Regions from separate parts of the Homo sapiens genome. Here region 2 is linked to region 1. The links come from fine-mapping of genetic effects on gene expression. A gene starts in region 1. The other region holds a variant in brackets. All regions are shown on one strand. Distances are between the middles of the regions.

Region 1 (5,331 bases):
GTGGATCATTTGAGGTCAAGAGTTCGAGACCCGCCTGGCCAACATGGTGAAATCCTGCTTCTACTAAAGATACAAAAATGAGCCGGGTGTGGTGGTGGGTGCCTGTAGGAGGCTGAAGCAGGAGAATTGCTTGAACCCGGAGGCGGAGGTTGCAGTGGGCCTAGATCACGCCACTGCACTCCAGCCTGGGCAACAGAGCGAGACTCTGCTTGAAAAAAAAAAAAAAAAAAAAGGCCGGGTGCAGTGGCTCACACCTGTAATCCCAGCACTTTGGAAGGCCAAGGCGGGCAGATTACCTGAGGTCAGGAGTTCAAAACCAGCCTGGCCAACATGGAGAAACCCTGTCTCTACTAAAAATACAAAAATTAGCCCGGCGTGGTGTTGGGCGTCTGTAATCCCAACTACTCGGGAGGCTGAGGCAGGAGAATCGCTTGAACCTGAGAGGCGGAGGTTGCAGTGAGCCAAGATCGAGCCACTGCACTCCAGCCTGGGAGATAGAGCGGAGAGTCTGTCTCAAAAACAAACAAAACAAAACCTATGTGCAAAACATGCTACTAGACAAGTTGCCAACCGTAAGGAATTTTCTTTTTTTTTGAGAGACAGTCTCACTCTGTCGTCCAGCCTGGCGTGCAGTGGCGCGATCTCGGCAGCTCCCTGCAACCTCAGCGTCCCCTGGTTCAAGCGATTCTCGTGCATCAGCCTCTGAGGCCTGAGCCTCTGGGACTACAGGCTGGCGTCACCACACCCGGCTAATTTTTGTATTTTTAGTAGAGACGGGGTTTCACTACGTTGCCTAGGCTGGTCTCAAACTCTGAGCTCAAGCGATCTGCCCATCTCGGCCTCCCAAAGTGCGGGGATTACAGGCGTGAGCCAGGGAGACTGGCCTCCCACCAATCTTATCAATGTCTGGGGATTATCTTGTTTACTTATAAATGATCTTTCTCACCTCCACCAGAAGGTAAGCCAGGATAAGAATAACATCAGCACAAGCTGGAAACATCCTAAAAGTCTATCAGTAAAGTACAGTCTAAAGAAGCAAGGGCACTTCCAAGGCCAGGTGCAGTGGCGGGTTCGTGTAATCCCAGCTACTCGGGAGGCTGAGGCAGGAGAGTCGCTTGATCCCAGGAAGCGGAGGTTGCAGTGAGCCGAGATCGCGCCACTGCACCCCAGCATGGGTGGCAGAGTGAGACTCTGTCTCAAAAAAGAAGAAAAACAGAAAAGGAAGAAAAAAGAAACAAAACGAGGGCACTTCCAAACTACAACATACTGTCTAGAACTTAAAAAAGAAAGCAAGGTAGATAAACATGTCCTGACAGGAAAGCTAAACGGAACCTGCAGAACCATTCAGATCATACCATTTATGAACATTCCCTTCTCCAAAAAATATACATAGGATTCCTTTTTGGTGGTTAGGGATACGCCCCTCCTCCACCACCCACATTAACACACGAAAGGACCTGGAAGTACCAGACTTAAAAGATTTACTTGAGGCCGTCCGGGGGGAGAAGTAAAGATTGAGGGTGTGGGAGGGGGGAGGAGCAAGGGTGTCGATACAGCTTTATCTACAAACTGTTACACATTGTATTAATGCGCTGCTACTGTAATGAAATTTGTTCTTTAAACGCCACCACGTGAGCACCACGCTATTTCCACATTTTCATTTTCTGTGCCCCCTCAGCCCTAAGAGGAGGGGGTGGTCAGATGATACTGCTGCCCTCGGACTGCCGAGGACACAAAGCCAGGCCTAAAACCCTGGGAAAGCGGGGTCAGAGTCCTGCGTCCGCCCTTCCCGCACCCCCGGCACCTTTTCCTTCTCCTCACAGCTGAGGGGCTTCCCGGGAGGCTCGTCCATCGGGCAGGCGACAGAACGAAAAGAGCAGCCGTCGCCGACCCCAGGCCTGCCGACACCGGGACCCAGTTGGCCCTGGGCCGGGGAGGCGCCCCAGGAAGGAATGGGGAGCCCGGGATCGCACCCTCAGTGCGCGATCAGCTGACCCACGCGGGCCAAGCGCGCCCTAAACTCCGGCCAATTAAATCCACCATTCGGCCTGCGCACGCGCAGCCGTAGACGGCCGAGCAGTGGAGCGAGGCCGCCTAAAGGAGAGCCGCGCTGTCGATGAGTCCCAGTGGGCCACCTGGAGCGGAAGTGGAGGAGCGGCCGGAAGTAGCCGGAATCTCTGAAAGACTGACCGACTGACTCTGACAGGATCCGGGGCTGAGGGAAGGAGGCGGCGGCCATGGAGTTGGGCGAGCTGCTCTACAACAAGTCTGAGTACATCGAGACGGTGCGCGGGTCCAGATATGTATCCTCCTCTTTCCAACCCTGCGTCCCTTTGAGGCCTGGTCGGCGTTCCCAACCTGCCCCTACCCCACCAACCCCTGTCCCTTTGGCCATTAGTCCCGGATTATCTAGCGATGCCCCGTGTACCGTCTGGCTTTGCTGTTTACTCCGCGCTTGGCCAGTTGAGGCCTTTTGTATTTATTCCTGATTTTCTCATAGGGGTAAAGTGCCTTCGGGAGGATAGGACAAGTCCCATCCTGTTCATACGAATTACAGCTCGGACTTCGGGCCCTTTTACACTGCCTTTTGTATCTGTTAACTTGCGCTAAAAACGATTCGGTTCTTTTTTTTTGAGGAAGGGGGTTGGGGGGCGGAGACTCTGTCGCCCAGTCCTGAGGGCCGCGGCGCGATCTCTGCTCACTGCAACCTCCGCCTCCCGGGTTCAAGCGATTCTCCTGCCTCAGCGTCTCGAGTAGCTGGGATTACAGGCGCCCGCCACCACGCCCGGCTAATTTTTGTATTTTTTGGTAGAGACGGGGTTTCACCGTGTTGGCCAGGCAGGTCCCTAACTCTTGACCTCAGGTGATCGACCCGCCTCGGCCTCCCAAAGTGCTGGCATTACAGGCGTGAGCCACCGCACCCTGCCGATTTGGTTCTTTATGATCAGTACATGATATGTTTGTAAAATCTTGGAAACAGGGCAAGTGGTCAATTAACGTTACTATCGTTATTTTGGTTTTCTTTGCTTTCTCACAACTCTGATACTCATAGTCATTATCCTCGTTTTAAGGCCGTAAAGCCCACGCGTGGAAGTGGGATTTGAATCCGCGTCTGTCTGATGCCACCAAGCTATAGACATTCAAATTATGAGTTTATTCCTTGAGTCCCTAGTTTCCTTTGTGTTTTTATTTTTTGAGACAGGTTCTCACTCTGTTGCCCAGGCTGGAGTGCAGTGGCACAATCACAGCTCATTGCAGCCTCGGCCTTCCAGGCTCAAGCGATCCTCTAGCCTCAGCCTTCTGAGGAGCTGGGACTACAGACACGCGCCACCATGCCCGGCTAATTAAAAAATTTTTTTTTTGTTGAGAAGGGGTCTCACTATGTTGCCTAGGCTGGTCTTGAGCTCCTGTCCTCAAGGGATCCGTCTGCCTCAGCCTCTCAAAGTGCTGAGATTACAGGCATGAGCCACCATACTCAGCCATAGTTTCCTAATCCATCATTGCTTTTTTGATATCCTGGACTCACTCCATTGTGGACAGCACCCCACTTTATGTTTTTTTCTCTCAAATGGGAGCTTTCTTGATGGAAACCTGTAGTCCAGAAACCTATTAAGTTTGCTTTCCCCGGTTTTCCGTTGTTTTCTTTTAGGCATCTGGGAACAAAGTCAGTCGCCAGTCAGTGTTGTGTGGAAGCCAGAACATCGTTCTCAATGGCAAGGTAAGGGACAAAGCCAGCTCCAGGCTGCAAACCTTAGCTTGCGTTCTGCTAATTGTCACCACAGCAGGGCAGATAAAATGTTGCCATATCTCCTATTTATTGTTTACATTTTTAATTCTCTTGTTTTTAAATTTTTTATTTTGTAAATTGGATCTCCTTTTTGTTTTTTTTTTGTTTCGGTTTTTTTTGAGACAGTCTCACTCTGTCGCCCAGGCTGGAGTGCAGTGGCCCCATCTCAGGTCGCTGCAACCTCCGTCTCCCAGGTTCAACCAGTTCTCCTGCCTCAGCCTCCCGAGTAGCTGGGATTACAGGCAGCTGCCACCAAGCCCGGCTAATATTTTGTATTTTTAGTAGAGACAGGGTTTCATCATGTTGGCCAGGCTGGTCTTGAACTCCTGCCCTCAAGTGATCCACCCACCTCGGCCTCCCAAAGTGCTGGGATTATAGGTGTGAGCCACTGCACCCAGCCTAAGTTGGATCTCTTGAATGCAAAAAGGTTCAATAAGAGGCAACAGAAAACCTTTTTTCTTTTATGCCAGGAACAAAATACAGTGGTACCTAGAACCAACATTATTTTATGATATAGTGTGCATTAAACTACTGGGCACAAAGTGTAACAGGTAATGAAATATTTGAAGGTAGAAACTAAAGTAATACTTATAAAATTATCTCTTTAGTAAAAATTAATAATTCACTATTAACTGAAACTCTTAAAACGAATGTGACAATTGGAAAAGATATTAAAGTATGAGACAAATATGCAAAGTGGAATCTGAAAGCCTGAGAATCTTGTAATCCAAATAAATTACAATAGCAAAGAGACGAGTATAAACTTGGAAGAGAAAATATCACAGGGTATATTTGAGCTTGACAAACAGTGAAGTTCACAGTTGTTTTCCTGCCATCTGGAACACTCAATTTTGAAATTAATTTTTCTTTAAATATTACATCTCTAACTTCCAGAAGGAAAATAGTCTCCTTATAACCAAGAGATCACAAATATTTTCAGTAGAAGATAATTAGTCTCCATTAAGCCTGTCATACCAAGGAATTAAGTGGAAAAGAAATATAATTCAGTAATTGCTGCTCAGACATACTGTTTCTTTTTTTTCCTTTTTTGTTGAGACAGAGTATTGCTCTGTCACCCAGGTCGGAGTACAGTGGCGCGATCTTGGCTCACTGCAACTTCCACCTCCTGGCATCAGGTGATTCTCCTGCCTCAGCCTCCAGAGTAGCTGGGATTACAGGCTCCCGCCATCATGCCCACCTAATTTTTTTTTTTTTTTTTTTTTTTTGAGATGGAGTCTCGCCCTGTTGCCCAGGTTGGAGTGCAGTGGTGCGATTTTGGCTCACTGTAAGCTCCGCCTCCCAGGCTCACGCCATTCTCCTGCCTCAGCCTCCTGAGTAGCTAGGACTACAGGCACCCACCACCATGCCCAGCTAATTTTTTGTATTTTTATCAGAGATGGGGTTTCACCGTGTTAGCCAGGATGGTCTCAATCTCCTGACCTCGTGATCCACCTGCCTTGTCCTCCGAAAGTGCTGGGATTACAGGCGTGAGCCACCGCGCCTGGCCTAATTTTTGTATTTTTAGTAGAGACAGGGTTTCACCA
Region 2 (5,373 bases), 120 kb after region 1:
CAATAAGGCAATGTGAACCGAACAAAAGGGATGAAACCAAGATTTACTGACTTTCCCAGAGTCACGGGCACGGCTGGGATTCCAACAAGGACTCCCAAACCAGTGCTCTTTCCACTTAACCTAACGCACACCCTTCATCTCGCCGCCCCTCCCCACTTCCCCGTCTTTGGGAGTTCTTCGATGCCTCTTCCCCCCTCCCCCCAGGATTCCCTCCCCATAGGCCACCCGCCTTCCAGCAGGGCGTGGTCTCTACAGAGGAGGTCAGGTCTCCCAGGCTTCCTCAGCGTCGACGCCGGGGAGCGCCCTGGGGTTGGGAGCGCCCGGGGCCCGCGAAGGAGGAGGTGGCTCAGGTGTCAGGGCGCACCGTGGGAACCGGCCCCGGGGGAGGCGTGGAAACGCGGGGCCTGGGACTCGACCAGCCTCTCCCGTGCGGATCGCAAAATCTCGGAGCTGAAACAGCCCGTTGTTCGCAGCCTCCCTCTGACCCGCCACCCTGCACATTGTTTTCCATTCGCCCGGGTCGCGGGTGGGAGGAGAGGCACGCCGGGGTTCTGGAGCTTGGCCGCGCGCCAGGCTTGTGGCCTTCGTCCCCCTGGGGCCACTGGGGCGGCCACGCCTCTCCGGCGGGAGGAGAGAACGCGTGGGTCCGGGTGGCTGCTCCGGCCCTTCCGCCTCCAGCTCGGCCATGGGGTCGCGCAGCTCCCACGCCGCGGTCATTCCCGACGGGGACAGTATTCGGCGAGAGACCGGCTGTGAGTGCGCCCGCGTCGGCGGCTGCGGAGGGGACGGGGCGAACCCAGGCGTCTGGGGCTAGGGAAGGGGTTGGGTTGAAGGATGGACGAACTTACAAGTCTGGGGTCCGGGGCTCCCCGGAGCTGGAAGACCAAGGCCCCTGTGCCTGGGATCGCTGGGTTAGGGGCGGGTTAACCTAGGGGTCCCAGCCTCCAAGTCTGGGGAGGATCCGGGTTCACGGGGTCGGAGTCCAGAGGAATCCAGGCACCCAGGTGTCCTCCAGCCCGGCTCGAAGCTGAAGGCAGAGCTGACGGCGGTTGGAAGGGATGGCTTTGGTTCTTTGGTTTTCGGGAGGTTGCGAGCCGCCCGGGTCTTGAACCTGGATCTTCGCGGGGTCGTGTCACTCTCCCTCCGCCCCGGCCAGCTCAACCCCTGATTCCCCGGGATGATCGCCCCTTCCAGCCAGCCCCCGCTGTTCTGGCCCATCTTCCTGGCCTGTTGGGGCGGGTTTCTGGAGCTGGCCCTGCAGAGTCACACACCCCCACCCCACTCTCCTTCCCGCAGTCTCCCAAGCCAGCCTGCTCCGCCTGCACCACCGGTTCCGGGCACTGGACAGGAATAAGAAGGGCTACCTGAGGTGAGGGGGAGCCGGCCTCATAACTTCTGGCCTCTGTCTCTCTGACTCCATGTCCCTCTTTGACCCTCCGTCTGGCATCTCTGCCTTACCCTCTTTGAAATTTGGCTTTGCAGCCGCATGGATCTCCAGCAGATAGGGGCGCTCGCCGTGAACCCCCTGGGAGACCGAATTATAGAAAGCTTCTTCCCCGATGGGTGAGGCTTGCTGGGCGTGGGGAGGTGAAGGCGGGAAAACCGGTGTGTGAGTGGGTGGGAGGGGAGGTTAGAGACGGAGGCAAAGTGATGGCCAAGGTGACCACCACCTCTTTCCATTCTGTCCCGTCTCCCCAGGAGCCAGCGAGTGGATTTCCCAGGCTTTGTCAGGGTCTTGGCTCATTTTCGCCCTGTAGAAGATGAGGACACAGAAACCCAAGACCCCAAGAAACCTGAACCTCTCAACAGCAGAAGGAACAAACTTCACTGTGAGTTTGTGAGGACCTGCACAAGTGAGAATGCAGATGTACCCACACCAGGGACAGGCTCCAGGGATCTCCCACTCCCTTCCTGAGGGCATTGACAACCTCCCCCCTCCTCCAAGGTGGGGGGAAGGAAGGTGGCTGCTGGAAGAGAGCCAGGGAAGACCTACCTTCCTTTCCCCCTCCCACCCTCTCCCCAGATGCATTTCAGCTCTATGACCTGGATCGCGATGGGAAGATCTCCAGGCATGAGATGCTGCAGGTTGGCAGAAAGCGAGAGCAAGAGATGTGATGTGTGAAGGATGGGATGGTTAAATGCAATGGTGTGAGAGATGGGGTGGGATGATTGGGGAACTGGGGCGCAGATAATTGGGGTATTGGTTGGGAAATGGGAATGGGTGCAGTTAGAGTGTGGGTTTGTTGGGAGTCGGAGTGGGGAGCAGTTGACTATGAGGTTGGGAATAGATCAGTGATTCTCAACTGGGGGTGATTTTGCTCCCTGAGTGAATATCTGGCAATATCTGGAGATGCTTTTTGTTGTCACAATGGGGGAGAGAGTGTGCTACTGGCATCTAGTGGGTAGAGGTCAGGAATGTGGCTATATATCATGCAATACCCAGGAGAGCCTCTTCCAACAAGGAGTTACCTGGCTCCAAATGTCAACAGTGCCAAGATTGAGAAACTCTGGAACAGATGTGATGGAATGAGGATGGAATTAGAAACCCTTAGTGGCTAAGGTGGAGAATGGTGTGGAGGATGGATGGAGGTTGGGTGATAAAGTTGGGTAATGAGTTTGAGCATATTTTGAGGGTAGTGCAGGATGGTGAGGGAGAGATAGGAGATTGGTTGTTGAAGCAGTAGGGAAAATTATTGGGGGATATGGTGAAAAATGGATGAAGGATGGATTATAAAATTAGCAATAACTTTTGGGATGAGGTGGGCAAGGTTTAGGAGATGGGGAGTTGCAGCCTTCGTGCCCCCTCCTTATGGCTGCCTCTTCACTCATCTCTCAGGTTCTCCGTCTGATGGTTGGGGTACAGGTGACAGAAGAGCAGCTGGAGAACATCGCTGACCGCACGGTGCAGGAGGCTGATGAAGATGGGGATGGGGCTGTGTCCTTCGTGGAGTTCACCAAGGTCAGAGTGCCCTTGGGGATTGGGGAGTTGAGATCAGGAGTTCTGGGGCAGACAG[A/T]CTTGGGAAACGTTCAACGGAGGAGGGCGGAAAGATAGGGGTTGCCTGGGAATGATGGGGTCTCTGGAATGGGTAGAACCCTGGGGGAGGAGGTTGGGAGCATGGAGAGCTGAGAGTCAAGCCTCTTGCCTGCCATTTGTTTTTCCCTCAGTCCTTAGAGAAGATGGACGTTGAGCAAAAAATGAGCATCCGGATCCTGAAGTGACTCCGTTTGTGCCTTGGGCTTGCTCCTGCAACCAGTATCTCCTTGGAATTCATCCAAAGCCCCCATGGACGCATGGACGCAGGGCGACAATAAACTGTATTTTCGTTTCTAACTCTATTTAGGGCCAAGAGAAGAAAGCTGGAAGGATGTGTACTAAAGTCTAGCTCAGCAGTCCCCAACCTTTTTGGCATCAGGGACAGTTTTTCCACGGATGGGTGACAGGGGATGGTTTTGGGATGATTCAAGTGCATTACATTTATTGTGCACTTTATTTCTATTATGATTACATTGTAATATATAATGAAATAATTATACAACTCACCATAATGTAGAATCAGCAGGAGCCCTGAGCTTGTTTTCCTGCAATTAGACGGTCCCATATGGGAGTGATGGGAGACAGTGACAGATCATCAGGCATTAGATTCTCATAAGGAGTGCACAATCTAGATCCTTTGGTGTGCAGTTCACAGTAGGATTTGGGCTCCTATGATAATCTAATGCCACTGCTGATCTGACAGGAGGCAGAGCTCAGGCGGTAATGCAAGCAATGGGGAGTGGCTGTAAATATAGATGAAGCTTCAGCTCGCCTGCCGCTCACCTTGTGCTGTGCAGCCCGGTTCCTAACAGACCACAGACCCCACACCAGGTCTATCTCATTTGGTCTCAGAGCTGTGAATCAGCCAGCAATATTTTAGTTGCAAATCACTGAAAACCCAACTCAAAGTGACTTAAGTCAGAAAGAAATTTTATGAATTCAGGTAATTAAAAAGTCCAGAAGTATCTGCCTTTAGGCACAGCTGGATCCAAGGGCACAAATGATGTCATCAGGCTCCAGTTATTCTCCATCTCCCAGCTCAGCTTTTTCTGTCTGTAAGCCTGATTTTCAGGAAGGCTCTTTCCTAGTGATGGAGATGACCACCATCAGCTCCAGGCTTCTATCCTGCTAACCCAGTAACCCAGTGGGAAGAGATTTACTTATTCCAATAATTCCAAGTGGAGAGTGTCATTGACCCGTTTGGGGTCTCATCTCTACTTCTAGGGGAATGAAACACTCTGAGTGGCCAGGCCTGTGTCATGTGCTAATTCCTAGAGCCAGGGAAATAAGGTCTGAGGATTCAGGATGGGGTGAAAGGTGGTTGCTTAAAGGAAAATGAAATACAATTAGCAGAATAAGGGGAAACGAGTGGTCTGCTCTGCTCGGGCAAAACAAGAGATGCCCATTACTGTGAGGGACCCTTGAAGTCTGGACTCTTAAATGGGTTTTTGCTGATTTCCTGGGTGCATGCTAGGATGATGGGGCTTGATGCAGTAGGGAAGAGACGATGTAAAAATAATAAACAATATATACCTTCCTAGAGTGTGAATGCATTCGAAGATTCTAAGAGTAAGCTTGTTTTCATGGTAAGATGTTCAAACATTGATATAAGATGGAATGGAGCAGGAAGTCCCATAAAACTATGAGACTCTATGTCTGCAGCAGAGCTCTCTGGTTGCACCTGTGGGAGACACTGTAATTGCCCTGCTGTTTTTCTCCCTCCCAGAGCTGGTCTTTGGTTGTCTTGTATCATCAACACATGAGAACCAGTTGTGCTCATAACATCTCAACTCTGCTTTCAATGATATGTTAGCAGCTTGAAACTGGCTATAGCAGGAATATTTACACCACAGACATTGGTAACTGCAACAGGTTAAGGCTTTTTCCTCCTGGAAAGCCAGTTGTTAAACATTTATCTGCACACTACCTGCTAGACATTTCCCATTACTTTGCATGCCAATGGTTTCTTTCCTTTTTTCTCCCTTCTTTCTTTCTTTCTTTCTTTCTTTCTTTCTTTCTTTCTTTTTCTTTCTTTCTTTTCTTATCTTTCTTTCCTTTTTTTTTTTTTTTTTTTTTGAGACAGGGTCTAGCTTTGTCACCCAGGCTGGAGTGCAGTGGCAGTCTTGGCTCACTGCAACCTCTGCCTCTCGGGCTCAAGCAATGCTCCCACCTCAGCCTCTTGAGTAGCTTGGACTACAGGCACATGCCACCATGCCTAGCTAATTTTTTTTTTAAAAAGAGGTGGGGTTTCACCATGTTGCCCAGGCTAGTCTTGAACTCCTAGACTCAAGTGATTCACCCACCTCGGCCTCCCAAAGTGCTGGGATTATAGGCATGGG

Evidence for each region. PIP is the estimated chance that this variant, and not a neighbour inherited with it, causes the effect.
Region 2: its variant is the best candidate, but not a certain one, in a credible set for the expression of DCTN5 in whole blood (INTERVAL, PIP 0.84).

The regions. Positions count from the first base shown.
Region 1 is chr16:23,639,306-23,644,636 of GRCh38, forward strand. DCTN5 (dynactin subunit 5) reads left to right here and starts at 2,161. Exons shown (of 6, transcript NM_032486.4): 1 at 2,161-2,285; 2 at 3,650-3,718. The coding sequence starts at 2,238. It overlaps PALB2 (partner and localizer of BRCA2), which reads right to left and starts at 2,005. Exons shown (of 13, transcript NM_024675.4): 1 at 1,805-2,005. The coding sequence starts at 1,852. RefSeq lists a silencer at 1,072-1,306 and an enhancer at 2,434-3,223.
Region 2 is chr16:23,754,365-23,759,737 of GRCh38, forward strand. CHP2 (calcineurin like EF-hand protein 2) reads left to right here and starts at 662. Exons shown (of 7, transcript NM_022097.4): 1 at 662-752; 2 at 1,297-1,369; 3 at 1,483-1,563; 4 at 1,699-1,829; 5 at 2,024-2,085; 6 at 2,837-2,959; 7 at 3,166-4,571. The coding sequence starts at 686. The coding sequence ends at 3,219. RefSeq lists an enhancer at 550-1,195. The variant A/T (reference allele first, on the strand shown) is at 3,015.